Homo sapiens: one gene and its partners. The protein of the gene in region 6 purifies or fractionates together with the protein of the main gene of each other region. This does not show direct contact. Each region holds a gene or a part of one and is shown on either strand. Other genes may lie near its edges. The genes, in order: OBI1, PPP6R1, MTR, HERC1, RAP1GDS1, RAB15 and TSEN15.

Region 1 (4,299 bases), on a different chromosome or scaffold from region 6:
GTACTTAAAGAAAAAAAATAAAACAAAAAATCTCTTTCCTCTATTTAAAATACGAAAGGAAAAAAGAAAAAAGAATTTATCAAACAATTTCTTTTTATAGGCTTTTAAAATAAAATTTCATTGGATATTTACTCTAAGAAGTCTGGGGACTGAGGTAGGTCAGTTTTTACCTTGAATTCACTGCTAACATAATTTTAAACTTTGATTACTGTTTACCTCATATTCTTTGTGTAGTAATTCAAGTCTAGTTTTCCGAAGATGCTTCCTGACCGTATGGCTTAGCATAGGTTCACTTTCACTTGTTCCTCCTGTAGGGAAAAAAAAAAAAATCCTAATTTTTCATTCTGATTCGGGAAGAATGAAAATGATCCTTTTTCATATTGTTTTATATAGCTTCCCAGCTTCACATCTACCCTTCCCCTTACATACACACTTGGGGCTTACATCTAGGCCTTTTCTCTACCCTAATCTTGAGGAAAAAAAAATATATCAAATAACACCATAAGAAATACCTTCAGTAACACATCATATTGTATTTACATATCTACATATCTTATCACAGCAAACTCAGTGGAGGAAAGGGCTGTAATTATCACATTTGGACTACTTCAAATTCTGAAAACTAGACTATATTTAAATAATAAAACCAATTATTACATTTACATTTAACCAAGAGATTATATAAAAATGTATTACTGGCTGGGTGCAGTGGCTCACGCCTGTAATCCCAGCACTTTGGGAGGCCGAGGCGGGCGGATCACGAGGCCAGGAGATAGAGACCATCCTGGCTACAGTGAAACCCTGTCTCTACTAAAAATGCAAACAAACAAAATTAGCCGGGCGTGGTGGCTGGCGCCTGTAGTCCCAGCTACTCAGGAGGCTAAGGCAGGAGAATGGCATGAACCCGGGAGGCGGAGCTTGCAGTGAGCCGAGATTGCGCCACTGCACTCCAGCCTGGGCGACAAAGCGAGACTCCGTCTCAAAAAAAAAAAAAGTATTACTGCTATATACCTATGTATATAGATTAATGTGTCTTTTCACGGATTCTAACAGGCTAGTTACAATGGACTGTAAGTCATGGCATTAACTCTATGTCATGACTTGTTACAAATGCACTCACAATGAATTCTTCCTGAGAGCTCTTCACTGATGCTCTGGTTACCTTCTTTGTATTTTTTAGCATTATAATAATAGCAAAGGTATTTTACAGGTGTTCTTTTTCAGGATGTTCTATCCAAATGCAAAAATGGATGAACTATTTTCCTTGAGAGAATTTATGAAATATCACTTAGGTATGAATGAATAAAGGTAGGATATGGGATGAGAAGAAAAGCTGGGGGAAAATATTCAAATCATCAAAGCTCATATTCTGCAAGAAAAGACTTGACTCCTTGGTGAAATTCAGCAGGTAAAAAAAAACAGATAGAGGTTAACCCCGTAGCATGCAACACAGCAGAGAACCAGTCCTCTACCAGACTTCACCCAGGTACCAAGAGCCAACTCTGATTGCGCCTTCAGATCTCTTATTTCCTAAGTCCTACTAGTTCTTCTTTTGCTCTGTAGCATATATATTCCTTTCTATTTCCTTTGTAAAAATCTTGGCTGGGCACGGTGGCTCACGCCTGTAATTCCCAGCACTTTGGGAGGCCAAGGCGGGCAGATCACCTGAGGTCGGGAGTTCGAGACCAGCCTGACCAACATGGAGAAACCCCGTCTCTAATAAAAATACAAAATTAGCCGGGCGTGGTGATGCATGCATATAATCCCAGCTACTTAGGAGGCTGAGGGAGGAGAATCGCTTGAACCCAGGAGGCAGAGGTTGCGGTGAGCCGAGAACGCGCCACTGCACTCCAGCCTGGGTAACAAGAGCGAAACTCTGTCTCAAAAAAAAAAAATCTTATTTAAGTCCATTTTCCCTAACTTGGGACTATTACAATGACTTCTTAAGTTTTCTGAAAAATGTTTTCTATACTTGGCTAATTGTAGATTCACTTTCAATTTTTCCTATAGCAAAAACAAGTAGAAATCATTTTAATTTTTGCAACCTAAAATAAATAACTTATATGAGTAGAATAAAAACCAAACTCTAAAAAGGCTCTTTAGAAGTTCTCCTTTTCAAGGATCCTCTAGTTCAAGCTTTACTCCTCCCCCACCCCACCAATATTAATGTGACATAGAATTTGTTTTCACCCTTAATCCAAACTTACATTTTCTATCACCTAGGCAAAAGCCTCCTACCAGACCTACTCACATCCTGTCTACTCCTATAGTCCAACCTATGTATTACCACAAGTAATATTTGTAAAGCACATTTTGGATCATACCACTCCCTTGCTCAAAACCATCATGCCCAATTCACCCTTCTTCTTAGTCCTAGAGCAAGTCCCTGATTTAGCTGTCATTCAAGGTTCTCTGCACTAAAGTCTCAATTTACCTTTTGTCTTATCTCAGTAGTCGGACCCAAAGTAGACTACTGATCATTTCTAAAAACATGCTCTGGGTTTTCCTGTATCTAAACTTTTTAGTTCATGCTATTCTCCCTGCAGGAAATGCCCTCCTTAATTTTCACCGTTGAAATGTTATCCATCCTTAAATTTAAATGTCCAGCTTAAAGGCCACCTACTTTATGAAGCCCTTCTCGGTGTTCTTAGCTGAAGTTTCTTGCCTGAACTCTCTGGGCTTTTTTGGGGCCCTTAGCACTTGCTGCTTTTCTTTTGGTTCAGTTGCTATGAAAATGTAAGTTCCGTGAGGCTCTCAGGGTTATTCCTCTTAGCACCTCTCAGTGCCTTGTGCCCCAGTTGCTCCACATATACATTACACAAATTACTCAACCACTCAGTATTATGTTGGCCAAATAGCATCACTGAAAATAGCCTATTTCAGTCTTCCTCGAAATATAAATTATTTGGAGATTGTTTCAAACCTATTCCTATGCATATATAAAACAGGCCCTTACCTATAATTTCTTTGCAAGGATTTTCAGGAGTGATGGGGACTCTGCAAGCTGGACACTGGCTATTATTCTTCAACCACAAATCAATACAAATCGAACAAAATACATGGTTGTTGATGCATATGACAGGCTGACGTACCTTTGAAAAAAGAAATCACTTTTAGTACAGGACAACGGTCATAATTAGAAGATCAAATGGTTTAGTTTACAGCAAACTGCTTCTCTAGATTATAGCAGAGTAGGAGTTTAAGAAGGGATATCTAGCGCTTTTAAAAACACTGCTTCTGTTGGTCACTTTTCTTTTTACACATGTTTAACAGAGATACTAGATGAGATACTGGATCATGGAGACTGAAGCTTTTGACATATAAAATGCTTTATTTTGTACCTAAACCACAGAATTCATGCCAAAAAGAAAATGCTTTTTGTTCCACTAAGGCTGGGACAATTTTGCTCAAACTCTTCTATTTTAGCATTATAGAACAGCAGGATTAGGTTTTTGAAAATATCATTTAGCACAATCATCCATCTGATGCCCGAATCCTTTTCTCAATTCATTCCACTGTTACAGAATAACAGCAACTATTAAATATTGTATTGATACTTTACTAGAAATTCCCCAAAACCAAACAGTAATGAAAGCTAAAACAACCCAAAAGGCATGAGCTTCACTCTCAAGTAGTTTATAATCTAAACAGCAAACAATGCAGACAGAATTACTGAGATACACCAAATACACAAATCTTTGACTCCAGGCTCCATTTAAACAAGCACAAATAATAATACCTTACATTTATAGCATTTTTTTTTGAGACGGAGTCTCGCTCTGTTACCCAGGCTGGAGTACAGTGGCACCATCTAGGCTCACTGCAACCTCTGCCTCCTGGGTTCAAGCAATTCTCCTGTCTCAGCCTCCCGAGTAGCTGGGACTACAGGCGCCTGCCACCACGCCAGCTCATTTTTCTATTTTTAGGAGAGACGGGGTTTCACCACATTGGTCAGGCTGGTCTCAAACTCTTGACCTCAGGTGATCTGCCCACCTCGGCCTCCCAAAGTGCTGGGATTACAGGCGTGAGCCACCGCGCCTGGCCTGTAGTCATATTTTACAAACGGCTTTCACATGCATCTTTCACCGCCCCAACCCTTTTCCATCTCTTTTTTTAAAAATACCACAACTTGGTGAGGTAAACTGGGTAAATATGCTTTACAAATAAGAAAACAAAGGCATGAAGAAATTAGGTAGCTTGCTCAGGGTTAACTGGGTGTGTTGACTGTTTGTAGTTGTTTTATCAGGAGGAAGAAAGAAAAGAGAAGCTGCTTTGGTTTTCTCCACAGCATTTATATTA
Region 2 (3,668 bases), on a different chromosome or scaffold from region 6:
TTTCTCTTAATACTGGCCGGCCCCAGAGTCGCTGTGATGAAATGGGTTCATGCCATGTAGATTTGACAGCCTGAACACTAAGTCATCATCTGCAACTGAGTTTTTGACTCATGACTTTTGATTTCGGAATTAGGCTGTTTTCACTTTTTATTGACATGTAACATGCGTATAGACAAGTGTACATACAGATCCTGAGTGTGTGGCCAATGGATATCCTTCCTCAGTGCCCAGACCCAGGAGCAGGACCTTCCCAGTACCCACATCCCCTCTGTTAGCCAGTATCCTCCCTTCTGAGGGTAAAGTTGTCCTGGCTTCTAACCCTGTAGATGAGTTTTGTCTCTGTTTTCACTTGATATAGCATACAGCATCTCCTTTTATGTCTGACCTCTGTTGCTCAACACTCTGCTTGTGAGCTCCTTCCCTGTTGTGTGTTTGGGTGCCCCTGGCTCTCGTGCAGTGGGGCAGTGCCATGCATGATGAGCTGCAGCTGAATTGCTTGTTCTGCAGTTGACAGGCCTTTGGGCAGGTTCCTGTTGCTCGCTGCTGTGAGTGCAGCCGCTGTGAGTGCGGCCGCTGTGAATACCCTTGCACGTGTTGTTGGTGCACAAGTGTGTCACTGCCAAATCCAGCATCTTGACTTAGCCCTCTCTTTTCTTCTAAGAGTTTTATAGCATTATTTCTATGGTTTTCCATTCATTTTGAGCTAAATTTTGTATATGATGTGAGGTGGTCCACCTTCATCCCTTTACATATAGATAACCAGTTTTCCCTGCACCAGTTGTTGAAGACACTGTCCTTTCTCCACTGAATCATCTTGGCACCTGTGTAAAAAGGAAATATTTGACCATATGTATGAGTTTGTTTCTTCCCTCTCTGTTCTGTTCTATCAGTCTGTGTGTTGTTTTTATCCAGTACCACACTGGCCTGGTTGCTGTTGCTTTATAGTAAGTTTTGAAAATGGGAGGTTTGTTGGGCACGGTGGCTCACACCTGTAATCCCAGCACTTTGGGAGGCCAAGGTGGATGGATCACCTGAGGTCAGGAGTTTGAGACCAGCCTGGCCAACATGGTGAAACCCCATCTCTACTAAAAATACAAAAATTAGCCGGCTGTGGTGGGTGCCTGTAATCCCAGCTACTCAGGAGGCTGAGGCAGGAATATCGCTTGAACCTGGCAGGCAGAGGTTGCAGTGAGCTGAGATCGCACCATTCATTGCACTCCAGTCTGGGTGACAAGAACGAAACTCCATCTCACAGAAAAAAGAAAATGGGAGGTTTTAGTTTTCCAACCTTGTTCTTCTTTTTAAAGATTGTTTTGCCCTATTTGGGATTTCTTGAGATTCCATATGAATTTTAGGATCAGCTTGTCAATTTCAACCAAGAAGCCACCTTGCGTCTTCTAATACGTGAACATGGATGTCTTTTTATATAGGTCTTAAAATTTCTTTCAACAATGTTTCGTAGGTTTTAGAGTATGAGGCTTTGTATTTCTTTTAAGTTTATTCCTGTTTTCTTCTTTCTGTTACTATTGTAAATGGAATTTTCTTGAAATTGTTTTCAGATTGTTACAAGTATATGAAAATACAATAGGTTTTTGTATGTTGATCTTTCATCCTGCAACCTTGCTGAACTAATGTATGAGTTCTGATAGTTTTAGTGGACTCCTTAGGATTTTCTATGTACAGAATCATGTCATGTGAATAGAGTTCATTTTCCTTCCTTTCAAATCTGGATGATTTTAATTTCCTTTTCTTGCCTGGTTGCCCTGGCTAGCCTCCGGGACAATGTTGAACAGAAGTGGCAAGAACAGGCATCCTTGTTTTGTTCCTGATCTTAGGGGGAAGCATTCAGCGTTTTGCCATGTAAGCATGCTGTTAGTTGTGGGGTTTTGTAGATGCCTTATGTTAGGTTGAGGGGCTTCCTTTATACTCCTTAGTCGTTGAGTATTTTAGTTTACTTTTAACTATATACAGATATATTACTTTCCAGTTAAAGTAGTCAGTTACTCTGTTAAGACAAAAATATTGGGTCAGCATTTTAGACATAGTATATAGTCCCATACTGCATCTTTGGGTCAGCGATGGACCACATATGACAGTGGTCCCGTGAGATTATAATCCTCTATTTTTGCTGTATTTTTCCTATGTTTAGATACACAAACATTTACCATTGTTAGAATTGCCTGTAGTATTCAGTACTGTAACATGCTGTATAGGTCGGTAGTCTAGGAACAATAGGCTATACCACAGAGCCTAGGTGTACAGGAGGCGCCACCATCCAGGTGTGTGTAAGTGCACTCTAGAATGTTCACACAATAGCAAAATCGCCTAATGATGGCGTTTTTCAGAGTGCACCCTCGTTGTTAAAGCTTAGTTTTAGTGTTACTTTGCTTACCCCTTCCCCGGTTGATCAGCACGTAGGTTGCTTGGATTTTCTTCATGCTCACAGGTGTGTGTTAGTCAACATTCAGCCAGTGTTTTTGGAGCAGCTATGGGTGCCTGGTGGTTTCTCAGGGCTGAGGATACAGCAGTGGCAAAACTCAGCCATCTCTGCCTTCTTGGAGTTTCTAGTTGGAGGGAGAGAGTAGTGTGAAGCCTCTGTCCAGAGGGTGGGCCTGCTGGTGGGAAGGCCTGTCACTGTGGTGACCGTGTGAGGTGACGGCTGGGAGGTGGCTTGAGAGCTGGTGAGTGGGTCTGTCTGCTCTGGTTGCCATGGCTGAGGCTCAGCCCACTTCCCCAGGGCCTGCCCTCCACGGATGACTGGCGACGGACGGTCTCCTTACGGCCGCATTCTGTCCCTGCCCGCCTGTGTTCTTGCCGTTGGCTCAGAACTCCCTCTCCCAGCCTCTCCTGGTGTCGTCACACCCCAGGCTCCCTGGACCCTTCTGTGACCTGCCTGTCATCCCAGCCCGCTCTCCTTGGGCTGACCCTGGGCTGCAGGGAACAGGATGGGTGTCGGCCGGTCTGTCCCACACAGCTAGCTGACGAGGTGGTTTCTGGGGCAGGAGTGGAGGCAGCACAGACAGTGAGGACGAAGAAGAGGAGGACGAGGAGGAGGAGGAAGACGAGGAGGGCATTGGCTGTGCAGCCCGTGGAGGGGCCACCCCTCTGTCCTACCCCAGCCCTGGCCCTCAGCCTCCAGGTGAATGAATGGGCGGTGTGGTCAGGTGTACACAGGGCTGTCTGCCTGCTACTGAGTTCACCCTCCATCCCGCTCCCCCACCTCTATCCCAGGCCCCAGCTGGACAGCCACCTTTGACCCAGTGCCTACAGATGCCCCGACCAGCCCCCGAGTCTCCGGGGAGGAAGAGCTGCACACTGGGCCTCCAGCCCCACAGGGGCCCCTCAGTGTGCCCCAGGGCCTCCCCACTCAGAGCCTGGCCAGCCCTCCTGCCCGTGACGCCCTGCAGCTCAGGTGAGAACCGGATGGAACGGGCTAAATGGTGCTGGTATCCCGAGGCCAGGAGGTGGCCATGGGGTCCCCGTCCTCTCATAGGCTCGAGTGCTAACCCTAGCTGCCCCCTTGGGCTGCCTCTCTCGCCTACCAGGTCTCAGGACCCCACACCCCCCTCAGCACCTCAGGAAGCCACAGAAGGCAGCAAAGTCACGGAGCCCTCAGGTGAGCCCCGCTTTGCCCTGCCCACCCGCGGCCCTGGGCAGAGAGAGCAGCC
Region 3 (4,299 bases), on a different chromosome or scaffold from region 6:
TGGGCCACTCAAATTTTCCACCACTCTGCATATGGGTAAGTCTGAACAACTGCAGAAGTGACGTTGAGTATTGATTTTGGGGTCACAAATAAATTTCAGTAAGTACATGAATTTGCAAATATAAAATCCATAGATGATGCAAATCAAATCTACATATATAAGCAATAAATTTATGAAGAAAAGCAACAGAGTAGCGTCATAAAACTCAGGACAATAGCTACTTTATAAAATTGAGAATGAGGTGTAACTGGAAAAGGAGAGACAGACGGGGGCGCTAGCTATGCTCTATTTTGGGACCTAAGTGAAGGCTCTTATATGCTTCATAATTAATTATTTATCAGGTTCTGTGGTTTTTTTGTTTTGCATCATTTTGTTCAAGGCAGGGCCTCACTCTGTCGCCCAGGCTAGAGCGCACTGGCGTGATCCCAGCTCAATGCAACCTCCACCCTCCTGGGTTCAAGCGAGTTCATCAGGCTCTGTTATGTTCTCCAGTCTGTTTGTTACACAAGTTAAAACTCTACTAAAGAAAAAAAATAAGGTCTCCTACATTTCAGAAAAACAATTTACTAACTAAGAATGTTAACATTTCATCAGCCAATAAATATATAAGTTAGTTCTAACCATTCATTAGACCCATGGGACAAATTTGAGCCATGACTTGGGAGAGAACATGCCTACACTTACTTTAATGACTTTTGTTGCATGGATAAAATTAATGGCATACAAGTTGTGTTCCTCCATTCCAGTCCCAATGGTTAGGATATTAGGGTCAAAAATAATGTCATTTGGATTAAAGCCCAGTTTTTTCACAAGCAGATGGTAGGCCCGGGTGCACACTCTGATTTTTGTGTCTGTTTCTGTTGCCTAGGGAAAAGAGCAAAAGATGTAGTTTGAAATAGAAAAATTATCTATTAAAATATTAATATTAAATACCTGTTATTTTATTTTAATAAAATATTAATATTAAAATATTAAGTGTTATACATTAGAGCACATTTCACTCACTGAAAACACTCAAGTGTCAATGCTTGGATTTCACAGAAATCTAAATGCCAAGCAGCTTCCGATCACTTATCAAATTATCTCAGAGGAGAGACTGGTTTAAAGATCTCTTTGTGTTTTCACAAACACAGCAGCTATACTCTTTCTGCAAAAAATCAAACCTTAAACATATACACACATATGGTATATTATGAAAAAGCTTCTAAAAATACATGCATATGATAAAAAATCAAATACTACTAAAGAAGAGATTAACATGTAAGTGCCCCTTCCTCTCTTGACCTGACAGCAGTGTCACAACCTATCACCCAGGAAACACTGCCATTGCTTTCTCAGATCTTCTTGCAAAAACATTCTAAGCATATTCAAGGATATGCATTTATTCCTCACCTTCACCCATTTTAACACTGGCCTAACATGTGTCTTAAGTCATAAATACAAATTAGTCTTTACCTTCAAAATAATGTCCCTAAAAGGCAAAACACTAACTCCGGCAAGGCTCATCCCCCAGCTGCTTCCCAAAAGCCTCAGAATCTCAGCCTCCATCTCCAATCTCATCTCCTACCATTTGCCCTCTCCTCTACTCCGCACCTCCTACATTGCTCCTTTGGTGTTTTTGAAACCCGTCAAGCTTGTTCCTCCCTCAGCAACTTTCATTTATTGCTGCCACTACCAGAACATACCATGACATGGCTTTGTGCTTCACAGAACTAAGGCTTCTGCCCAAGTGCCCCCTTTTCAGAGCCTACCTTAAATCACCCTCTCTAAACCAGCCACTTCCACCCTTCCCCACCTCCTCCATTCTTCTTCGGAGTATTTCTTTCCAGAAATTGTATTATTTTGGCAACATCTTTAGTATTTTTCGTTGTTTTATTACTTGTTAATTGGTAAACTCCTCTCCCCTAGATAGAATGCCAGTCTTGCTTTATCCCCAGTGCCCTGAGCAGTGCCTGTCAAAGTAGGTGCTCAACATTATGTATGAATGCTGCTTTTACTCAAAGTATTTCTGAACTTTGTCATGGAAACTGTCTTCAGATCAAATTTACAACCTCAACACAGGGTATTCACCAAATTACATCCTGAATTATTTCTGGTTGTATGAAAAATCAAATCTACTCTTAAAAAATGATTACTTGCTATCACTCCAGAGATAAGAAAAAATAAGTCACAATTCTGAAGGTCAATTCTCAATGAACGCGAAAAATGTTCTTGAAAAATGGCCAACCCTACTGCAATCTATATTGCAGACTTCTGTGGAGATGAGGGGGTAGGGACACGGACATAGGTCAAGTGCATCTAGTGAGGCCCTAGACAACAGAAATGAGGAGTAGGGGAATTATGAAAAGAACTCTCTCTTAGATCTAGCCTTTTGATCACTTACTACTTTGGTATTCTTTTTCAACTGTTTTCTTTGGTCTCTTTAATCGCTCTCTGCAGCTGGTGGGGTGAGACTTCACCTCTACTTGGGAGGGAAGTGCCTCCAGGACTTAGCAGACAAAATGGCCCAGGGAAAGGGAGACAGGAAGTGGTCTCTGTGGCCTCACTGCACCCAGGCTTTAGGGAAGGTGGCGAGCTTTCGTCTTCCTTAATGGAATTTTCTCAATGCTTACTTCCTCTGCCTTCAGTTAGAGTGAAAAGGTTAAGGTTGAGACTGAGATGTATGTCAGAAAAAACTGGTCAGAAACAGCCCATTTGCAGCTGCCTTTAGGCTTGAACTTTTAAAGTCTACCCTTCACCAGACAGCCCAATAGAGTTCTAGGCTCTAGGTTCATGGCTCATCTAAGCTCACTAAGAGAGAAGGCACAGGGGCGACCAATGCTACTAGTATTACTGAGTAACCTAGTCTGGTTGGTAGATGAAGAAGTCAAGGTCCTGGTCATTCCTCATCTGAGCCATGAATATTATCTGGCCAAGCAGGGCAGGTTGAAGTGAACAGTATGTTACCCACAGGAGAGTAGGGTGTAGGGCCCAGCTGTATACCAAAGACAGCCCTGCTTGTGGGACAAGCAGGTGCATCCTCACAGGACAGGAATTCATTTCTAGAACCAAAACAGAGTCATCAACTCTAACCTCCATAAGGATGAAGCCCTTGTCAAATTGTTCTCATGGCGTCTAGCACAGTATCTGTGCCACATTAACAGATACTCAACCTCTGTCACTTGATTAAACAATGACTCTCAGAGTGAACACGGCATTGGTGTACAGGCCTTTGTCAGGAGCAGGTCATATCTCATATCACGTAAGGTTCACCAAGCTTCTGTCTTACTCCTCACCAGGGCTGTGGGACAGACACACTAATAAAGCCTCAATCGTGCTGGTGGATTTCAGAGATCCAGAATAGAAGTTCAGTAAAACAACGGAATGGCAGCTTTACTCCATCAGGAAGGGCTTTCAACTCTGGTTGCACATTACAATACCCTGGAGGGATTTCTGTTTGCTTGTTTTTTATAATAGTAACACCTCACCCTGAACCAGTTAAATCAGAATCTGGAGATGGGGTCTCAGCAAGTGTTTTGTAAAAGCCCCTTAGTGATGCTAATATAAAGCCAGGTGAGAACCACCAACAGGTGAGATGTGGCACCTTCTTCAGTTGGAGTAGAAGAAAAACTCAGTGAGATTCTAAGCAGCAAGAAGGAAGGAATAAATGCCATTTATAGCTTTATCAAACAGGTTTACTCTTAAGCCATAGAGAAGCTAGACTGTGACCAGTGAGTAGAAGGCTTTACTTAAGAAGCTCATGGCTCAGATTCTGCTAAAATATCACACACTCAGGCAGTAATGCAATAAAACAATTTTTGATTTGGTCATCAAGGCAGACACTGTGAGGAAGAGAAGGACAATGTGTAGAAGACATCTAGATTCTTTAATGTAGTCTGACAAGGAGCAGAGATCGAACAGGGCTAACTTCAGAGGTGAGTTAAAGTTTTAAAATCGAACTGAAGTAGTTGAAGATGGGCGAGAGAACCCTGGAGGAAGCAGAGGCCCATCCTGGGGCTGTAATTAAAAAAAGAAGTGGCCCGGCCCAGTACAATGGCTCACATCTGTAATCCCAGCACTTTGGGAGGCTGAGGCAGGTGGATCACCTGAGGTCAGGAGTTCGAGAACAGCCTGGCCAACATGGTGAAAACCCATCTCTACTAAAAATACAAAAATTAGCCAGTTGTGGTGGCAAAGGCCTGTAGTCCCAGCTACTTGGGAGGCTGAGTCAGGAGAATTGCTTGAACCCGGGAAGCGGAGGTTGCAGTGAGCTGAGATCACGCCACCGCACTTCAGCCTGCACGACAGAGTGAGACTTGA
Region 4 (4,299 bases), on a different chromosome or scaffold from region 6:
TCCTGAGGGTGTCTAAGCGAACACAGAAGAAATGAGAAACAATGATCAGCTAGAATATCTTATTGATTTATTCCATGCCTGTCCAATCTGATATCCCTCCAGTGCAGTCACTCTCTCTGGAAGTTTTTTGTTAGAGGTATTTCCAAGACCCAGACGACCATAGTCACCATTCCCAAAGGTGAACAGTTTGCCATCTGAAGTGACCACTGCTGAGTGCTTGAAGCCACAAGACATCTAAGACAGAACCAAGGAGAAAGAAAATTTTTAAGAAGGGAAACTAAGAAAAAAGTAAATCTGCCATTTTTGGTATTAATATAGCAATAAACTTTACATAAACTTCACTGAAAACTGGATCTTCAAAGACCAATGCTTTTAAAAATTTTTTTTTTTAATTTTTTTTTAAATTTTAAAGAGACAGTGTCTTGCTCTGTCACCTAGGCTGGAGTGCAGTGGTGTGATCACAGCTCACTGCAGCCCCAAACTCCTGGGCTCAAGCAATCCTCCCACCTCAGCCTCCCAAGTAGCTGGGACTACAGGCATGTGCTACCACACCTGGCTATTTATTTCTATTTTTTGTAGAGACAGGGTCTTGCTATGTTGTCTAGGCTGGTCTCAAACTCCTGGCCTCAAGCAATCCTCTTGCCTTGGCCTCCCAAAGTGTTAGGATTACAGGCATAAGCCACTGCATCTGGCCAACTGGTACATTTATCTGCCCAAGTTGCTCTCCTGCTCTCCCAAGTCTGATCTGTCTCAACAGCCTCAGGAAGCCCAAGCTGAACAGCATACCCTGGAGTAACTACTGCTACTCTTCAGCTGTGTACACATGACCTAGACTAAATGAGATAATAAATGGGGAAATTGTTTGTAAACTATAAGGTGCTATACAATCTTACAATATGATTTTAGAACACTATTTTCCAGAAAATGCATGTTAACTTAGCTTTTGTAACATAAATGATAGGTTAAAAGCAAAGTTTTCCTTTTATCTGTGTATTAAGAACTGTGTGGCAGAAGTTAAACCACACAATATTCCTTCCAAGGGCGTGCAGCACCCTAGTCTGGGCCAACCAGCTGGCTCACGAAAAAGACCATTCTAACCAATACTAACAAGACCAATACTAACACCAAAGCCTATTCAAACTTCTGACAAGCTCAAGAATGAATCTGAACATCCAAAACCAATGGATCTCTTATAATTACTGTGTAATATATTTTTACTATATTTTCTGTTACCTAATTTTAAGAAACCTATTCAACAACTAGTATATTTACAATGAAAGGCAAACTTATCCATTTCCTGCCTGACCTGCACCACTTCTTCTCCTTGTAAGGCCTCGATCTGCCTGGGCCGCCGCTGCCTGTCGCTGTTCCCATGGCCAAGTTTACCATAGTCACCATCTCCCCAGCTAAAGACCTCACCACTTTCAGTTAGGGCCATAGAGTGCCCATCAGAACCACAGGAAGTCACCAGCTGGGTCACCACAAAGCCTGGAACAGAACAGAAACCCAACAGGAGTCACTGGATGTTAAAACTCTCCTCTTTACTTGCAGCTGCTACTGAATACCCTCAATCAAAAACCACCGAATTGGTACTATGAAAATAAGAATAATTTCATTAGTTTTTTTTTTTTTTTTAGATGGAGTCTCACTCTGTCATCCAGGCTGGAGTGCAGTGGTGTGATCTCGGCTCACTGCAACCTCCACCTCCCCGGTTCAAGTGATTCTCTTGCCTCAGCCTCCTGAGTAGCTGGGATTACAGGCATGTGCCACCATATCTGGCTAATTTTTGTATTTTTAACAGAGACAGGGTTTTACCATGCTGGCCAGGCTGGTCATGAACTCCTGACCTCAAGTGATCCGCCCACCTCGGCCTCCCAAAGCGCTGGGTTTACAGGCATGAGCCACAGTAACCGGCCTAATTTCTTTAGTTTTAAATTGAATTTGTAGCCATAACCTAGCAAAACTGCGAATAGTCACCTAAAATAATGGTGATGACAAGGAAAACGAGGATGACAGCAATAGTTACAGTCATTAATGACTGGCTATGCTCTAGCCACTCCTATAAATGCTTTACATGGATTATCTCATTTTCTACTTTCACATAGCACCTATGAAACAGATACTAACATCCCATTTTTACAAGTGGGAAAACTGAGTCACAAAGAGGTCTCGAAGCTTGTGCAATGTCCCAGAGCCAAGGACCAGTAGAACCCATAGGAACCCAGCACACATTCTCATCTTTACTGCTGTGCTCTTCACACTCAGATCACAATGAAAAGAACCTGAGCTTCTAGGAACTTGTTTTGAACTCATAGTTACTTGTATGCTTTTACCTAAAAAAACCGTCGGTGCTCTCTTTGTAGGCTTCAGAGTCATTATGAGTTCAGTTAATGAGCAAGCCGGGGGCTTGTACAGTGGTTTCTCCAAAGGTGTTCTCTCTCCAAGTCACAAAGAACTCTGATGAAGATGTCCTTTAAAGTCTTTAGCACATTTGCAGATTTCCATATAAACTGATTTTTAATTTTAATGAAATACATGCATGATTGCTACTGCTATTAACATCTGCCTACTTACACTTTTGCAATTTTTAAGCATTTGTTTACAATCTTCAGTGGGTCTCAAAAAGTGTTATTTATATTTCACTGAATTCTAGCATTGCTATAAGTAACCTGCAATATAGCTTAAAATATGGAAATTAAGGCTGCACACATGCCTAAATAAGGATTTAAATGTAAGTGAAAACCTGATATGATTTTATCTAGCAAAGGTTTGAGAAGGGCAAAGGTTTGTACGACCAAACCTACATTAGGCCTTAGGTTCTAACCATCTTTTTATTAAGGACAATTTTACCTTGTAAGGCTGAAATAACTGTCAGCACATGAAGGTCATCTGAATTTCCTTGTCCTAATCTGCCATAACTTCCTTCCCCACAAGCCAACACTGTGCCATTGGCCTGGATGACAAAGGTACAATTCTGACCACAAATGACCTAGTATAAAAACACAGAATTAAATATTTTATTCTTTATTATATTGCTTTAACATGCAAGCACTTGAAATGATTCCACGTATACATAGAATGCTTTTATAATTGTTTTATCCTTTTACTGAAAGGGAAGAGTTGATATAACTATGCAGTCCCGTAACTCCTTGATGACTATAAAACTGCTTATTTAACCAAGAGATGTATGAGATTCATCCATTTAAAATAGTTTAGAACAACAAAATGGATGAAAGAAAAAGGAAGGGGTGATGGGGAAACATTAAAGACTGGGCTAGAAAGAAGCAGAAACTCGTACATAAGAATGAGTCATGCAATCTGGACTAGCTGAGGTAAAGAAGAGCAAAAGAGAAAGCAGAGGCCTCGAGAAGGGTTTGGCGCTATATCGTACCAGGATTATTAGAAAAGGGGAGTGGTCGATAAAATCTGGCTAAAGATCCTAGGAAGTTTTTAGCCCCAAAGAGAAAATCACTAATTAGGAGTATCTAAACTGCTAGAAATACATACTGGGCAGGCCTAACACATCATGATGTTAGTTCATTAAACTTGAAAGAAAAATTTAGAAATTTGTTAACTTCTTAAGTCTGATAAAAACCACACCAAGTTTTTATTTGAAAGCTATATATCATGACTTTCTTTAATGATTCCTCATAATAGATTATGAAATGGACAAGCTTTATCCCACAATAAGACAAGCAAAAGAATTAGAATTTTCAGTTCCCATGTTTCTTTTCTATTTTTTATCCTGTTAGTTACCTGTTGGGCCTGTGAGAATGAGGGAGCTGCTGCAGGTACCATTACATTTCTTCCAGCTTCTGCCAGCTGTCCATGCCTACCAGCACCCCATAAGTAGACATCACATTTACCTCCCAGGTGCCAGTCCTAGAAAACCACAATCATCTCAAAATTAGAGTCATCCATTCACTCAAACAGCCATGTACTACGTACCAAGTGTGTGCCAGCCTGTATGGGAGACACCAGGGCACAAACACACAAGCATTTAGAATCAAAACATTGACTGAGAACCATCATACAGTTATCTTCATCTTTACTGACCTCAGGTCTGGAAGTTGCCCAAGACATAATTTGTTCATCCATGCCGTTAATCCATTTACTGTTATCCTGAAAAACAGGGGGTACATAATGATCAATTCTGCTTAGGCAAGATGCACCTGCTCTTAACCACAAAGTCCTCTTCTAATCATTAAGTCTTATTTCCAAAAAAGAATATGGTAATATTATGATAAATTAAGAGCAGTTTTATAATTATGTCAAACTTGATTTTATGCACTGTCAGTA
Region 5 (4,299 bases), on a different chromosome or scaffold from region 6:
TTGTTATTGACCCAGTGATCATTCAGGAGCAGGTTATTTAATTTCCATGTATTTGCATGGCTTTGAAGGTTCCTTTTGGAGTTGATTTCCAGTTTTATTCCACTGTGGTTTGAGAGAGTACTTGCCATAATTTCAATTTTCTTAAAATTTATTGAGGCTTGTTTTGTGGTCTATTATATGGTCTATCTTGGAGAAAAGTTCCATTTGCTAATGAATAGAATGTATATTTTGCAGTTTTGGGTAGAATGTTCTGTAAATATCTGTTAAGTCCATTTGTTCTAGGGTATAGTTTAAATCCATTGTTTCTTTGTTGACTTTCTGTCTTGATAACCTCTTTAATGCTGTCAGTGGAGTATTGAAGTCTCCCACTATTGTGTTACTGTCTATCTTGTTTCTTAGGTCTATTGGCAATTGTTTTATAAATTTGGAAGCTCCAGTGTTTGGTGCATATATATTCAGGATTGTGATATTTTCCTGTTGGACAAGGCCTTTTATCATTATATAATGTCCCTCTGTCTTTTTGAACTGCTGTTTCTTTAAAGTTTGTTTTGCCTGATACAAGATAGCTATTCCTGCTGACTTTTGGTATCCATTTACATAGAATGTCTTTTTCCACCCCTCTACCTTAAGTGAGTCCTTATGTGTTGGGTAAGTCTCTTAAAGGCAGCAGATAGTTAATGAATTCTTATCTATTCTGCAATTCTGTATCTTTTAGTGGAACATTTAGGCCATTTACATTCAATCTTAGTATTGAGATGTGAGGTACTATTCCATTCATCATGCTATCTGTTGCCTGTATACCCCCCACTTTTTTTTTAATTGTATTTTTGTTTTGTAGGTCCTGTGAGATTTATTCTTTAAAGAGGTTCTGTTTTGATGTGTTTCCAGGATTTAAGATTTAGGGCTCCTTTTGGCAGCTCTTGTAGTGCTGGCTTGGTAGTGGTGAATTCTCTCAGTATTTGTTTGTCTGAAACACACTGTATCTTTCCTTCATTTATGAAGCTTAGTTTCACTGGATACAGAATTCTTGGCTGATAATTGCTTTCTTTAAGGAGACTGAAGATAGGGCCCCAATCCTTTCTAGCTTGTAGGGGTTCTGCTGAGAAATCCACTGTTAAGTTGATAGGTTTTCCTTTATAGGTTACCTCGTGCTTTTGCTTCACAGCTCTGAAGATTCTTTCCTTTGTCTTAACTTTAGATAACCTGATGACAATATGCCTAGGCAATGATCTTTTTGCAATGAATTTCCCAGGTATTCTTTGAGCTTCTTGTATTTGGACGTCTAGGTCTCTAGCAAGACTGGAGAAGTCTTCCTTGATTATTCTCCCAAATATGTTTTCCAAAAGTTTTCTTTGTTTTTTTTTTTTTTTTGGAGACAGAGTCTTGGGAGTCTTGCTCTGTCACCCAGGATGGAGTGCAGTGGCACGATCTTGGCTCACTGCAACCTCCGCTTCCCAGGTTCAAGCAATTCTCCTGCCTCAGCCTCCCCAGTAGCTGGGATTACAGGCGCACGCCACCATGCCTGGCTAATTTTTGCATTTTTAGTAGAGATGGGGTTTCACCATGTTGGCCAGGCTGGTCTGGAACTCCTGACCACAATGATCCACCTACCTTGGCCTCCCAAAGTACTGGGATTACAGGCGTGAGCCACCGCACTCAGCTGGTTTTCTAAACTTTTAGATTTCTCTTCTTCTTCAAATGCCACAGGTGTTTGAGTTTTTTTTGTGATTTTTGTTTTTTTAAGCTCATCAGCTATTGTTAGTGTTAGTGCATTTTATGTGTGGCCCAAGACAATTCGTTTTCCAATATGGCCCAGGGAAATCCAAATGATTGTATACCCCTGCAAACCAATGGTGGAGATTCTCTTGGAGTAGAGCAAAAAGATTAAGGGTAATGACTCCAAAGAGCATGGGCGAGTGGGCAAGTTTAGGGAGTGTTAGCTGCACCTCTTCCTATAGTGTTTTATTTTGTTGAATGGCATGATAACCCAATCTGGTGGTAAACCCCAAACTTGGAATTAGCTCTAAAACTACCTCCTCCTTTAATTCTACTGTTGAATCTGTCAATTCTACCACCCATATTTTTCTCAGGTCTGTCTCTTCTTTTCCATCCTCGCTGCTTCTAGTTGAATAACCCATATGAAATTTGTTTCAAAAATGGCTGAATATCAGCAATTTCAAATTGCTCAACTCAAAACCTTAATTCAGTCCTTTATCAACTCTCATATATATTTTTGCAATAACTGTCCTTTCTACCCCCATTAAACCCTAGAGACATCTTTCTAAATGAAAACTAAATGGCTGGGTGTGGTGGCTCACGCTTGTAATCCCAACACTTTGGGAGGCCGAGGTAGGCGGATCACCTGAGGTCGGCAGTTTGAGACCAGCCTGACCAAAATGGAGAAACCCCGTCTCTACTAAAAATACAAAATTAGCCGGGCATGGTGGTGCACGCCTGTGATCCTAGCTACTCAGGAGGCTGAGGCAGGAGAATCACTTGATCCCGGGAGGCGGAGGTTACAGTGAGTGGAGATCGCACCATTGCATTCCAGCCCGGGCAACAAGAGCGAAACTCTGTCTCAAAAAAACCCCGAAAAAACAAAAAAACAAAAAATAAAGAAAACAAAAAAACCCTCAAATAATGGCAACTTGCTGCTTAAAACCCTTTAAGTGCTCCCGAATTCTCTACAGAATCAAGTCCATATATCTTAACTTGGTATATAATTCACTTAATTCCCAGTTTTCAACCTCTCTGGCTACTGTCTCTTTCTACACTCTGTGTTCTAGCAATACTGCTTTATTTGCAGTTTCTTTAAAAAATTATGCTGTTTTACATCTCTGTGCTTTTGTACATCCTGCTGTCTTTGCCTGAAAAGGCCCTTTCCTTCATTCTCTTTCCCTTTCCTCCTGAGATTCCTAGTTAACGCCTAAAATAGCACTCCTTCTATGGCACCATCCCAGATTACCCAGACAGTGTGTTAGTCTTTCTTTCCTCTGTTACACCCGAATAGCATACGTAGCTTTAAAGCTGTACTTAAGCTAGCTGTTTTTATTTCTGTCCCCTCAACGGATAGTTAATTCCTTTATAGAAACACTATTTTTTAGTATTTACACTGCAAGAACTCAAATATTAACTGTTAAATGAACAAATGGGCGTGAGAGAGCAGTTATGATGGAGAAGGGGTCAAAGGGGTACCAAGGAAGCCATTTTGCTATTCTCTCCTGACAACTTCCACCTTGCCAACATACTGCTTGGTCCTGTGTCAGGAAAAATGTATGAGCTTTTAGGGTGGTCTGGGTGAGACAGGTAATAGGAAGGTCCTAGTTAACAGCTGCTTTTCCCCAGGGAAAGTTCTCAAGATTTAGCATCTGATGGAGAAGAACACTCCTGAGGCTTACCAGCTGGGACAGCTATTATGGTGAAGCCAATTATTTATATGAAAGAGATTTATACAAGAACAGCTTTAGTTTTACGTTTTTTCTCTTGGCATCTTCTTCTTATCTGTTCTAAAAATAAATGAAAACAGCTGGTGGATTTGAGTTCTAAACTTTCTCCTCATATATAATCACTACTGAAGTTGTACAAGAGAAATGACTGAAAGGGTCACCTTAGAAAACAGTATTAAAGGCTGGGCATGGTGGCTCATGCCTGTAATCCCAGCACTTTGGGAGGCCAAGGTGGGAGGATCATGAGGTCAGGAGTTTGAGGCCAGCCTGGCCAACATGGTGAAACCCCATCTCTACTAAAAATACAAAAATTAGCCGAGTGTGGTGGCGCCTGCCTGTAATCCCAGCTACTCTGGAGGCTGAGGCAGGAGAATTGCTTGAACCCAGGAGGTGGAGGTTGCAATGAGCTGAGATTGTGCCACTGTACTCCAGCCTGAGCGAGAGAGCAAGACTCAGTCTCAAAAAAGAAAAAGAAAACAGTATTTTATTTTATTTTGAGACGGAGTCTTGCTCTGTCACCCAGGCTGGAGTGCAGTGGTGCAATCTCGGCTCTCTGCAAGCTCCGCCTCCCGGGTTCACGCCATTCTCCTGCCTCAGCCTCCCGAGTAGCTGGGACTACAGGTGCCCGCCACCACGCCCAGCTAATTTTTTTTTGTATTTTTAGTAGACCCGGGGTTTCACTATGTTATCCAGGATGGTCTTGATCTCCTGACCTCATGATCTGCCCACCTCAGTCTCCCAAAGTGCTGGGATTACAGGTGTCAGCCACCACGCCCAACAAGAAAACAGTATTTAAAAAATTTAAAAATCATATAATCTAGATACTAAATCAGCTGCTGAACTGCTGGCCTGG
Region 6 (4,299 bases):
CAGAGAAGAGACACGATGCACGGAGAAAGGAGCAGCTGAAAGTGGCCTGGACTCCAGCCCTGGCTGTTGTCTGGTGGGTGCGGGATGGTGAGACAGTGCTTGCGGCACATCGTGGGGGTCGTAGCAGGCCTGTGGCTGGGGAAACAGGCTGAAGAAGACCACTCCAGGGTGGACGGGCTGGGGACAGGGGCTGCTTGAGATGACAGCAGAGCCGCTCTCAGGGCCAGGCAGGGGGAGTAGTGGCTACTGATACTCAATAGGGTCATCACACGAGAGGACAGCAGCAGGGCAAAGCCCCGGCTCCCCTGTCTGCCCACGGGCCTCCTGAGGGAAGAGGGGTGTCGTGTGGGGTGCCCCACACAGGACTCAGCACCAGCAGGTTTTCGAAGAGTTCGCTGGGCCCTCGGGTTTGCCCTCCTCCTCCTCCAGCTCTGCCAGTGCCAACTCATTGCTGGCACGCATCCGGAGGCCTTCCAGCTCCTTCCTATGGGCCTGCAGCACCAGCTCTGTCAGACGCGTGAATGACTGGAAACCAAAGGGCACAGGTTAGTCCAGTGTCTCCTCCTCTCCCCTGGCAACCCTGCAGCGGCCTGAGGGATAAGGTCCATCTTATGGCTCCTCCTCCCACCTCTGCTGGACTCAGCCCGAGAGAGCGGGCGCCTGGTCACCAGGGCTCTCACCTCTTTAATGTTGAGGTTGGTGCAGGCACTTGTTTCATAGAAGTCCATGCCATACTCCTTCGCCAGCTGCAAGAGAAGGACATTTCTGAAAGAGAGTCAGTAAGGCAGGGGAGGGGCCCATACAACCAGGCACAGGCTTCTGCCACTGCACTCACAACCATGCTGTGTTGTGACGATTTCTCAGAGTAGATAATTTCTCAGATGGGACTGGGAGCTCCAAGAGAGGGTAGCAGAGAATGGGGGAAGATCCTCCACAAATATGCCTCTCCATTCTTCCAGCTGCCACCCCACGCCTCCCAACACACAATCATATATCAGGAGATAAAGACACCATCCATTGTGGCAGTATGGCATCCTCGTAAAAAACATGGGCTCTGGAGTCCCACAGTCCCAGACCTGAATAGCAGCACTGCCACTGATGGCTAGCTGTGTGACCTTGGACAAGTTGTACATTCTCTGTAAGCCCCAGCTTTATCTTCTGTTAAAGGAGACTGAGTGTGTCTCCCATCCATGGTTGTGGGATGATTCAGTGGGGTCGTGCACTTAAAAGCGCTTGCCTTAGCACAGTGCCACACATAGAGTGCTCAATAAATACTATCCTAGTAGGCTTTGCCTCTACTTTCAAATTGGTCAATGACCATGTCTTATATTTTATACCAAACAATCAATTTCATTTTAAGTACTAATGGAACGCTATTGACTGAAAAGGGAGAGGAAAACTCTTGAGGTCCACGGACTGAGTGGATAACTTATCTCAGAAATACCAATCTTGGCTGGGCACAGTGGCTCACGCCTGTAATCCCAGCACTTTGGGAGACTGAGGCAGGTGGATCACCTGAGGTTAGGAGTTCGAGACCGGCCTGGCCAATATGGCAAAACCCCATCTCTACTAAAAATACAAAAAAATTAGCCAGGCGTGGTGGCATGCACCTGTAATCTCAGCTACTTGGGAGGCTGAGGCAGAAGAATTGCTTGAACTCAGGAGGCAGAGGTTGCAGTGAGCCGAGATGGCGCCACTGCACTCTAGCCTGGGTGACAGAGCGAGACTCCATCTCAAAAAAAAAAAAAAAAAGAAAGAAAGAAAAAAAAAATAACCAATATTTCTTTCTGCTCTCTGGGAGGATGGTCTCCCTGCATGCTTGGACATTCCCTCAGCGTCATCCTCCTACCCTTTCTGCCCCCATGGCTTCTCCAGCTGTGGCTCTTTGTCTCCTCATTTGCCTCCCTGGCTCTTTCCTGGGTAAGAAGGACAGGAGTGGGGGAGTGTTGGGTGGGATGGGAGATCATTTCTCGACCGTAACATGGCAGCTAGGCCTGGATGCTGTCAGAGAAGAGGTTGACAACTTGAAGTCCTTCATTACTAACACGGGGATGATCTCTTAAGCAGAGGGCAATCCTGCATTTGGGGACCTGGACTTGGGAGAGTTGCTGCCTATGACGTCTTTGTTTCTGGATGGACCCCGAATCTCTGGGCTTCTGTCCTGAAACCCAGACAACAAGCCTTCCGAGGATGGCCACTCCCCCAGGGCCTTGGGGTGCTGGGGACGTGTGGGAGGACCTGCCACTGGGGAACACACCCCTAGGTCCCCACGCTCAGGACTGGCCCTGGAGGCCCAGCAGAGGACCTGGGGTGGACTTGCCTTTTCCCTCCACTTACCTGCTGCCCTTGCTCTCTTCCCACCTGCCGTTTCTGCTCCTCATCAGCCTTATTCCCAATAAGGATCTTCTGGACGCCTTCTGGTGCGTACTAGGGACAAAGGATGGGCAGAACAGCCAGTGAGTGCTGCCTGCCCCCCCAATTTTCCCTACAGAGTCTGCACTGCCTCCAGCCCACCACCAATTCCAGAGCCCTAGGGACAGGGTGGGCCGACTGGATGCAGGTGCCAGGCTCCCCCAAGTGCCATGGCTGACCTCAAGGGTATCACGGGGAGAGCTTAGGGTAGAAGACACTCTGGCTAAGACTGGTGCTTCCTTGGGTTAGACCACTGGTATCAGAGCTGGAAAGGACATTGGATGTAAGTCCAGCCCTCATTCTACAGGAACTGGGGACCCAGAGGATTCAAATGGCTTCCCAAGGCTCCACAGCTATTGTGCAGAGCCAGGACTAGATCCCAATCTTGCAACTCCACCTGGTCCCAAGATTTCAGGAAAGAAGCTGCTCACAGGGAAGACTTGGAACTAATTCATTTCCGGGAAAGACACAGCCGTGGAGGCCTGGCAGGGTATAGAGAGTGAGGGCATGGCAGCTTCGGTTTCTTCCCCATGTCTTACTCACCCAGAGGTCTTCATCCAGGGCTGTGGAAGGCAAAGCTTCCTGGAAGCATTTGCCTTCCCATCTGGCCCTCGCCTTGCCTTCCCCGGTGAGGCACCCTCTCCACACCCCGGCAGTGAGGTGGCATCTCCTACCTCATCCACGTCACTGACCCACTTCATGATGTGCTGGTAAGAGCGCTCGCTGCTAATGTCATAGACCAAAAATATCCCCTGAGAGAGAGAGAAATAGAGAGATGTGATATGCACAGAGAGAGTGCAGTCATGGGGCCAGAAGGGGCCGTGGAAACTTAAAGGTTGGGTCCCACTCTCCCATTCTCCCTGCTCAGCATCCAGAAATATCTCTTCTCTCAGACCCCACCACTGCCGCCTCCCAGGCCCATCACAGAACTCTCTACAGCAGGAAGACACCACATGCTTTGACCTGGATCTTTGACCCAGGATGGAGGGTGGAAGTCAGGGGTGAGGGCAGGGGCCTGCCTGCAGTGAGTGGGCCATGAACAATGGACGGACAAATGATCAGTGAACAGCTGAAAGACGCCCTGCGCTCCTCCAAGCAGGCGAACTGTATTTAGGGGATCCGTGGCACAGACATCTCAAATACCCAGAGCTGGGAGTGTGGGTGGCAGCTTCCCACTTTGAAACCCCCAATGTGGTGGCTTACCTGGGCCCGCCGATAGTACTGCTTTGTGATGGTCTGGTATCTCTCCTGCCCTGCAGTGTCCCTGCAGGAGAAAGCCAGTCCCTCAGAGGAGCAGGGACCATGGGAACAGACGGGGAGGGGAAGAGCAGAGCTGTCCCCTTGTAGGAAAAACTGGGGAGCTAAAGGGTGAAAAACCAGGGATGCTTGGATCCCCACAGGGATCTGCAGTCAGAGGCCTGGTCATCTGTGCTGGTGCTGACCAGGCCTGCAGGGCCTTGGCCCCTCCTGCCAACTGCCCTCCTGGCAGAAACCAGAAGCCACAGCCAGAACAGGCCTTGGACAGCTCTCTGGAATCTGGCCACTGTGGCCAGATTTGGTTGGATGGGAGTTGGCAGGGGATGCTGCTACACCCCTAGTCCCTATGGGACCTCTGAAGGCAGTGCCCATACTGCTGTGGAATTGAGAGGGAGCTCTAAACCCTGGCAAAGGCAGTGCTTCCAAGACCTCAGGCAGAGAGCCACAGCAGCACCCTCTGCTACTGTGGAAACTTCATCATGCTATCCTGAGGAACTCTCTCAGGGTCTCGCCCTAAATGATGGGGGGTGTAGCCTCCTTCCTTCCAATCTTAACATAGTGTGGCACAGCCCAAGGGCAAAGCCTAATCCTGAGATAAATTCACAATGGTTAGTGTGCCAGTTCCTTCTA
Region 7 (4,299 bases), on a different chromosome or scaffold from region 6:
CATCTTCCCACCAAATACTTTTAGGACATGTCCCAATGAATTTCTTTGCTATACAAGGTTATCAGAGACTCAACATCAATCATTTTCTTCTCTGTGTTACTAACACAGAAAAATTCCCACATTAACTATGAAAGGCTGGAATTGCAGCATTACTGTTAGATATATAACATTTTATATTATAAAATACACTAAAAGTAAAAATAGATAAAAGTATGCCTACTACCTAAAAGACTGCCCTGTTAAAGACTGAATAATGAAATCACACATACACACATATACACCCACACATTTCCATTTGTTAAAAAGTTATTTGCATAGTTTGAGTTGAGAAAATGTTATGCACTAAAAGGCATATAAATCTAGTATGTATCAGGCCTCATTTGTGCTACATTCTATATTAGTATTCTACTGTATAATATAGTTAAGAATATTTATATAAAAACAAGACATAAAGATTTAAGCTCTCTCAGTTATTAAATGCAACAGCATCAAAATGGCTTACCAAGTTATCATTCCAACTAATTCTACTTGAAGAAGAAAACAAGCTTTAGCCATTCAAGCTAGAAAAGCATTAATTACCACCTGGAAAATACTAGAAATTAACAATGGAAACAAATTTGTACTTCTAGACTTATGAAATGATTTTGATTAAAATAGGCTATTGCTTTCATTAATTTTATTTTTTAGGAATAAATGCAGGTTAATTTCAAATAGTAGCTCCTTGTCCAAACAAATAATATAACATTAATACTAGCTAGGACAATATTTGTTACAGTAATTAAAAGACAGAAGTAATGAGTTCTGAGGAATGAATTAAGACTCTTGGATATAGGATGGCTTGGAAATCATGCTAGTAAAAACCGGAAAGTACTAGCGATTAAATCTGATGTCAATGCTAACAACTATTTGTAATTCTCAAACACAGAGAAAACAGTAAGGAGCTTCTCAAAGAAGCATATGAATAGACTGACATATTAAAAAACAATTCTCATTATGAATAATAAATACAAAAAATACTTCATAGAAATCTGCAAATTTAGTTTAATATGGCTTTATGAAATATGCACAATGAAAATAACCAGTTACAGCAGCTTTAATTTAGAAGGGATCTTGCATGTACTGGTAATCTAAATCCCTCAACAACAAAATAAGACGAGGAAACTGAAACCCAGAGAAATTAGGTGTGTTGCTAAACATCAAACAAAATGTTAAGTGTCAGTCCCAAGACTAGAACCCAGGTCTTAAGACTTTATAGTCTGGGGCTCTTTCTACTAGACTGCTATGTATTCAGTCATAGTCAGCTAGAAAAAATGTTAAGTATTCATCAACGGTATTCATGCTGGAATTTAAGAGGCTCTGCTCTTTTCCCTACTTATATGCCACCCAAATAGAGCTGTGTTTTCATTTGTTCATTCTTCCCATACCCCACTCTCAGAGGTTTACAGCACCCCTTTACATGCTCAATATTACTCTCCTCCACTATCCTCTTGAATCCATCCTTCCTCATCTCTCAAGAATCTTGCTCCATCAATAATTGTCATCTCTTTTCTATTTTCAGACTTTCTGTAGGACAGCTCACGTGGCAGCTGGCTTCCTTTATAGTAAGCAAGAGAGAGTGCCCAAGATAGAAGCCACAGTCTTTTGTAACCTAATCTTAGAAGTTACATTCCTATCATTTTTGCCAAATTTTATTCATTAGAAAGAAGTCACTGAGTCCAGGTCACACTCAAGGGAAGAGAGTTACATAAGGGAGTGAATACCAGAATTAGGAGAAGCCATCTTAGAAGCTGCCTGCTACAGCTTCTAAAGAAGAAATGCATAAGGGAGGCTTGCTAACCAGATACCAAGACTTCTTACCAAGCAAGCGATTAAGAGATATGGTATTGGCAAAAGGACAGATAAACTGGCTAATGGAATATAATAGAGAACCCAGAAACAAATTAATGCATGTTTGGAACTTTGGAAAGTAGCAGAAGTGATATGTCAGATAGTGAGGAAAGGAGGGACTATTCAGTAAATGGAGGTAGAAAAAGTGGTTATCCACATGACAATGGTATCCCTAACCGCCTCTCACACCATTAAAAACAAGAACAATAGAACTCTTAGTGAAAATATAAGTATTTTTTAGACCGTTAGATAGAAAATATTTCTTAAACTAGACACAAAGACGTTGATTATAAAAGATGGATAAATATGATTATATTCAAATTAAGAACTGTTACTCATTGAAAGACATCTTAAGACAGTGAAAGACAGACTTAAAAACTGGAAAACACAATAAAAAAACTATTAGGTCAAGAATATATAAAGAATTCATACAAGTCAATGAGAAAACTAAAAACAACCCAACAGGCAAAAGATATGAACAGATATTTCTTATAAATAATACATATATAAAGAAATATTCAGTATTATGAGTAATAAGGGAAATGTAAATTAAGACCAAAATAAGAATAATCCATTCCATTGGCAAAAATTTAAAAGTCTGACAATACTAAATGTGAGAGACAATACAGCTCCAAAGGATCTTATTTACACTGCAGGTGAAAAGTAAATTGAGGCAACCACTTTGAAAATAGTTTGAAATTATCTCCTAAAGTTAAACATTAGCAACACTCCATCATCGAGGGAGTGGATGTAAAAATGGTGGTATAATCACACAATGGAATGTTATGTGGCAGCTCAAAAAATGCACAAGAATGGATGAATTTTAGTAATATAATATTAAGTGTATAAGGTCAGCCTTAAAAGATAAGATTTTTTAATTAAAGTTAAAAACATCTAAAATTTAAAAATTCCCAATGTACATGGAATTCAGAATGAGTTACCTCAGGTCAGTGAAAGCACGTTAAGGAAGGGACTTATAAGATTAGATGTTAGTTATTATCAAGAATCTAGTTTTGCTTTGGGTGATGGGTACAGAGATACTTATTACATTATTAAAAATAACTAAGTAAATAAATAAAAACCAAGCATGAACTAATAATGAGAGTATGTCATGAAACAAAGACATGTTTAATCCAATGCTGTGTACCTAAGCTTTTTAAAAAAAGGTCCTAAAAAAAGTCTCTTTTTTAAAGCTTTTAAAAAAAGCTACATGAAAATTTGATTTCAGCTTGCATGTTAATCATGCTTTTCACCAACTGCTATATAAAGTATAATTTGTATTACATGGTACATCTTATAACAGCTGTTATTTCATATGTAATGGTCTTGCTTCCTTACCAAGAATATAAATATTTCTACCATACATACTGTCTCTGAAAAAGTACTGACCATAGAGTAAGTGCTAAATAAATACTTGTTGAATGCTTGATATACTTTGTATATTTGTTCCTGCCCAAATCCCATGTTGAACTGTAATCCCCAATGTTGGAGGTGGGGCCTGGTGGGAGATGTTTGGGTTATAGGGGTAAATCCTTCATGGCTGAGTGCTGTCTTCAGGACAATGAGTTCTCGTGAGATCTGGTCATTTAAAAGTGTGTGGAACCTCCCCCTCAACACTCTCTCTCACTCCTGCTTTTGCCATATGATGTGCCTGCTCTTGCTTCACGAACTTCCTCCATGATTATAAGCTTCCTGAGGCCTCCCTAGAAGCCGAGTAGATGCCAGCACCATGCTTACTGTAAAGCCTTCAGAACTATGAGCCACTTAAACCTCTTCTTTTTTTTTTAAGAAATTACTCAGTCTCAGGTATTTCTTTATAGCAATGCAAGAATGGCCGAATACAACACTCATATTTAACTTATTCCTCAAATAGCCAAGAGTAAAGCTATGAACCCTGTATCCCAAATTTCATTAAAAGTATTACATCACTATGTTTAATGTTTCCTACTGCTTTACTCGGGAAAGGAACTTAGACCAAAATCACCTGCTCACCTGTTATGGCTGAGGGAAGCAGTGATGGGGGTAGGCACCACAGTCTGTAACCCCTCCCCTTCTATCTCAGTACCAACAAGGCAGATGAGCTGGAGTTCTGGTAATCCTACACAGTTTACTTCATGCCAGCTTTTGCCTGAAAGAGCATCATTGAATGGACAATAATGTTTATTAAATACAAAAAATAAAAACTCCAAACTTCTACCTAATACTCAGCTGAGCAAATATCACTCGTAACACTACCTCCTGTCTTTGCTTTTCTAGTAGCTTCTGTTACTCAGTAATTCCCAATGTAAATAAATAAATTGCAAAATTAACAGCAAATGCATAAAAGATTGCTTATTATGTTAAGAATGCTATATCCCAATCCAACCCCCCAAATCTCTACCACAGTCCCAATAACAAAACAATATAAACAAA

Evidence for each region.
Region 1: the proteins of RAB15 (region 6) and OBI1 purify together in Homo sapiens (affinity purification with mass spectrometry; one large-scale study listed by BioGRID and IntAct). This does not show direct contact.
Region 2: the proteins of RAB15 (region 6) and PPP6R1 purify together in Homo sapiens (co-immunoprecipitation; one large-scale study listed by IntAct). This does not show direct contact.
Region 3: the proteins of RAB15 (region 6) and MTR purify together in Homo sapiens (co-immunoprecipitation; one large-scale study listed by IntAct). This does not show direct contact.
Region 4: the proteins of RAB15 (region 6) and HERC1 purify together in Homo sapiens (affinity purification with mass spectrometry; one large-scale study listed by BioGRID and IntAct). This does not show direct contact.
Region 5: the proteins of RAB15 (region 6) and RAP1GDS1 purify together in Homo sapiens (co-immunoprecipitation; 3 studies listed by BioGRID and IntAct, with this or other methods). This does not show direct contact.
Region 7: the proteins of RAB15 (region 6) and TSEN15 purify together in Homo sapiens (affinity purification with mass spectrometry; one large-scale study listed by BioGRID and IntAct). This does not show direct contact.

The regions. Positions count from the first base shown.
Region 1 is NC_000013.11:78,641,906-78,646,204, forward strand, and holds part of OBI1 (ORC ubiquitin ligase 1), read right to left. Parts: intron 3,093-4,299; coding exon 2,957-3,092; intron 1,648-2,956; exon of another isoform or gene 1,121-1,647; intron 309-1,120; coding exon 217-308; intron 1-216. UniProt on the Homo sapiens protein: E3 ubiquitin ligase essential for DNA replication origin activation during S phase.
Region 2 is NC_000019.10:55,231,546-55,235,213, reverse strand, and holds part of PPP6R1 (serine/threonine-protein phosphatase 6 regulatory subunit 1), read left to right. Parts: intron 1-3,002; coding exon 3,003-3,139; intron 3,140-3,231; coding exon 3,232-3,412; intron 3,413-3,545; coding exon 3,546-3,616; intron 3,617-3,668. UniProt on the Homo sapiens protein: Regulatory subunit of protein phosphatase 6 (PP6). May function as a scaffolding PP6 subunit. Involved in the PP6-mediated dephosphorylation of NFKBIE opposing its degradation in response to TNF-alpha.
Region 3 is NC_000001.11:236,846,909-236,851,207, reverse strand, and holds part of MTR (methionine synthase), read right to left. Parts: intron 865-4,299; coding exon 685-864; intron 1-684. UniProt on the Homo sapiens protein: Catalyzes the transfer of a methyl group from methylcob(III)alamin (MeCbl) to homocysteine, yielding enzyme-bound cob(I)alamin and methionine in the cytosol. MeCbl is an active form of cobalamin (vitamin B12) used as a cofactor for methionine biosynthesis.
Region 4 is NC_000015.10:63,634,655-63,638,953, forward strand, and holds part of HERC1 (probable E3 ubiquitin-protein ligase HERC1), read right to left. Parts: intron 4,123-4,299; coding exon 4,057-4,122; intron 3,883-4,056; coding exon 3,757-3,882; intron 2,990-3,756; coding exon 2,851-2,989; intron 1,489-2,850; coding exon 1,307-1,488; intron 235-1,306; coding exon 79-234; intron 1-78. UniProt on the Homo sapiens protein: Involved in membrane trafficking via some guanine nucleotide exchange factor (GEF) activity and its ability to bind clathrin. Acts as a GEF for Arf and Rab, by exchanging bound GDP for free GTP.
Region 5 is NC_000004.12:98,421,843-98,426,141, reverse strand, and holds part of RAP1GDS1 (rap1 GTPase-GDP dissociation stimulator 1), read right to left. Parts: intron 1-4,299. UniProt on the Homo sapiens protein: Acts as a GEF (guanine nucleotide exchange factor) for the Rho family of small GTP-binding proteins (G proteins) that stimulates the dissociation of GDP to enable subsequent binding of GTP.
Region 6 is NC_000014.9:64,947,988-64,952,286, forward strand, and holds part of RAB15 (ras-related protein Rab-15), read right to left. Parts: intron 3,677-4,299; coding exon 3,616-3,676; intron 3,165-3,615; coding exon 3,087-3,164; coding exon of another isoform or gene 2,956-3,086; intron 2,428-2,955; coding exon 2,338-2,427; intron 747-2,337; coding exon 681-746; intron 526-680; coding exon 367-525; 3' UTR 1-366. UniProt on the Homo sapiens protein: The small GTPases Rab are key regulators of intracellular membrane trafficking, from the formation of transport vesicles to their fusion with membranes.
Region 7 is NC_000001.11:184,054,444-184,058,742, reverse strand, and holds part of TSEN15 (tRNA-splicing endonuclease subunit Sen15), read right to left. Parts: intron 4,016-4,299; coding exon 3,880-4,015; intron 583-3,879; exon of another isoform or gene 503-582; intron 1-502. UniProt on the Homo sapiens protein: Non-catalytic subunit of the tRNA-splicing endonuclease complex, a complex responsible for identification and cleavage of the splice sites in pre-tRNA. It cleaves pre-tRNA at the 5' and 3' splice sites to release the intron.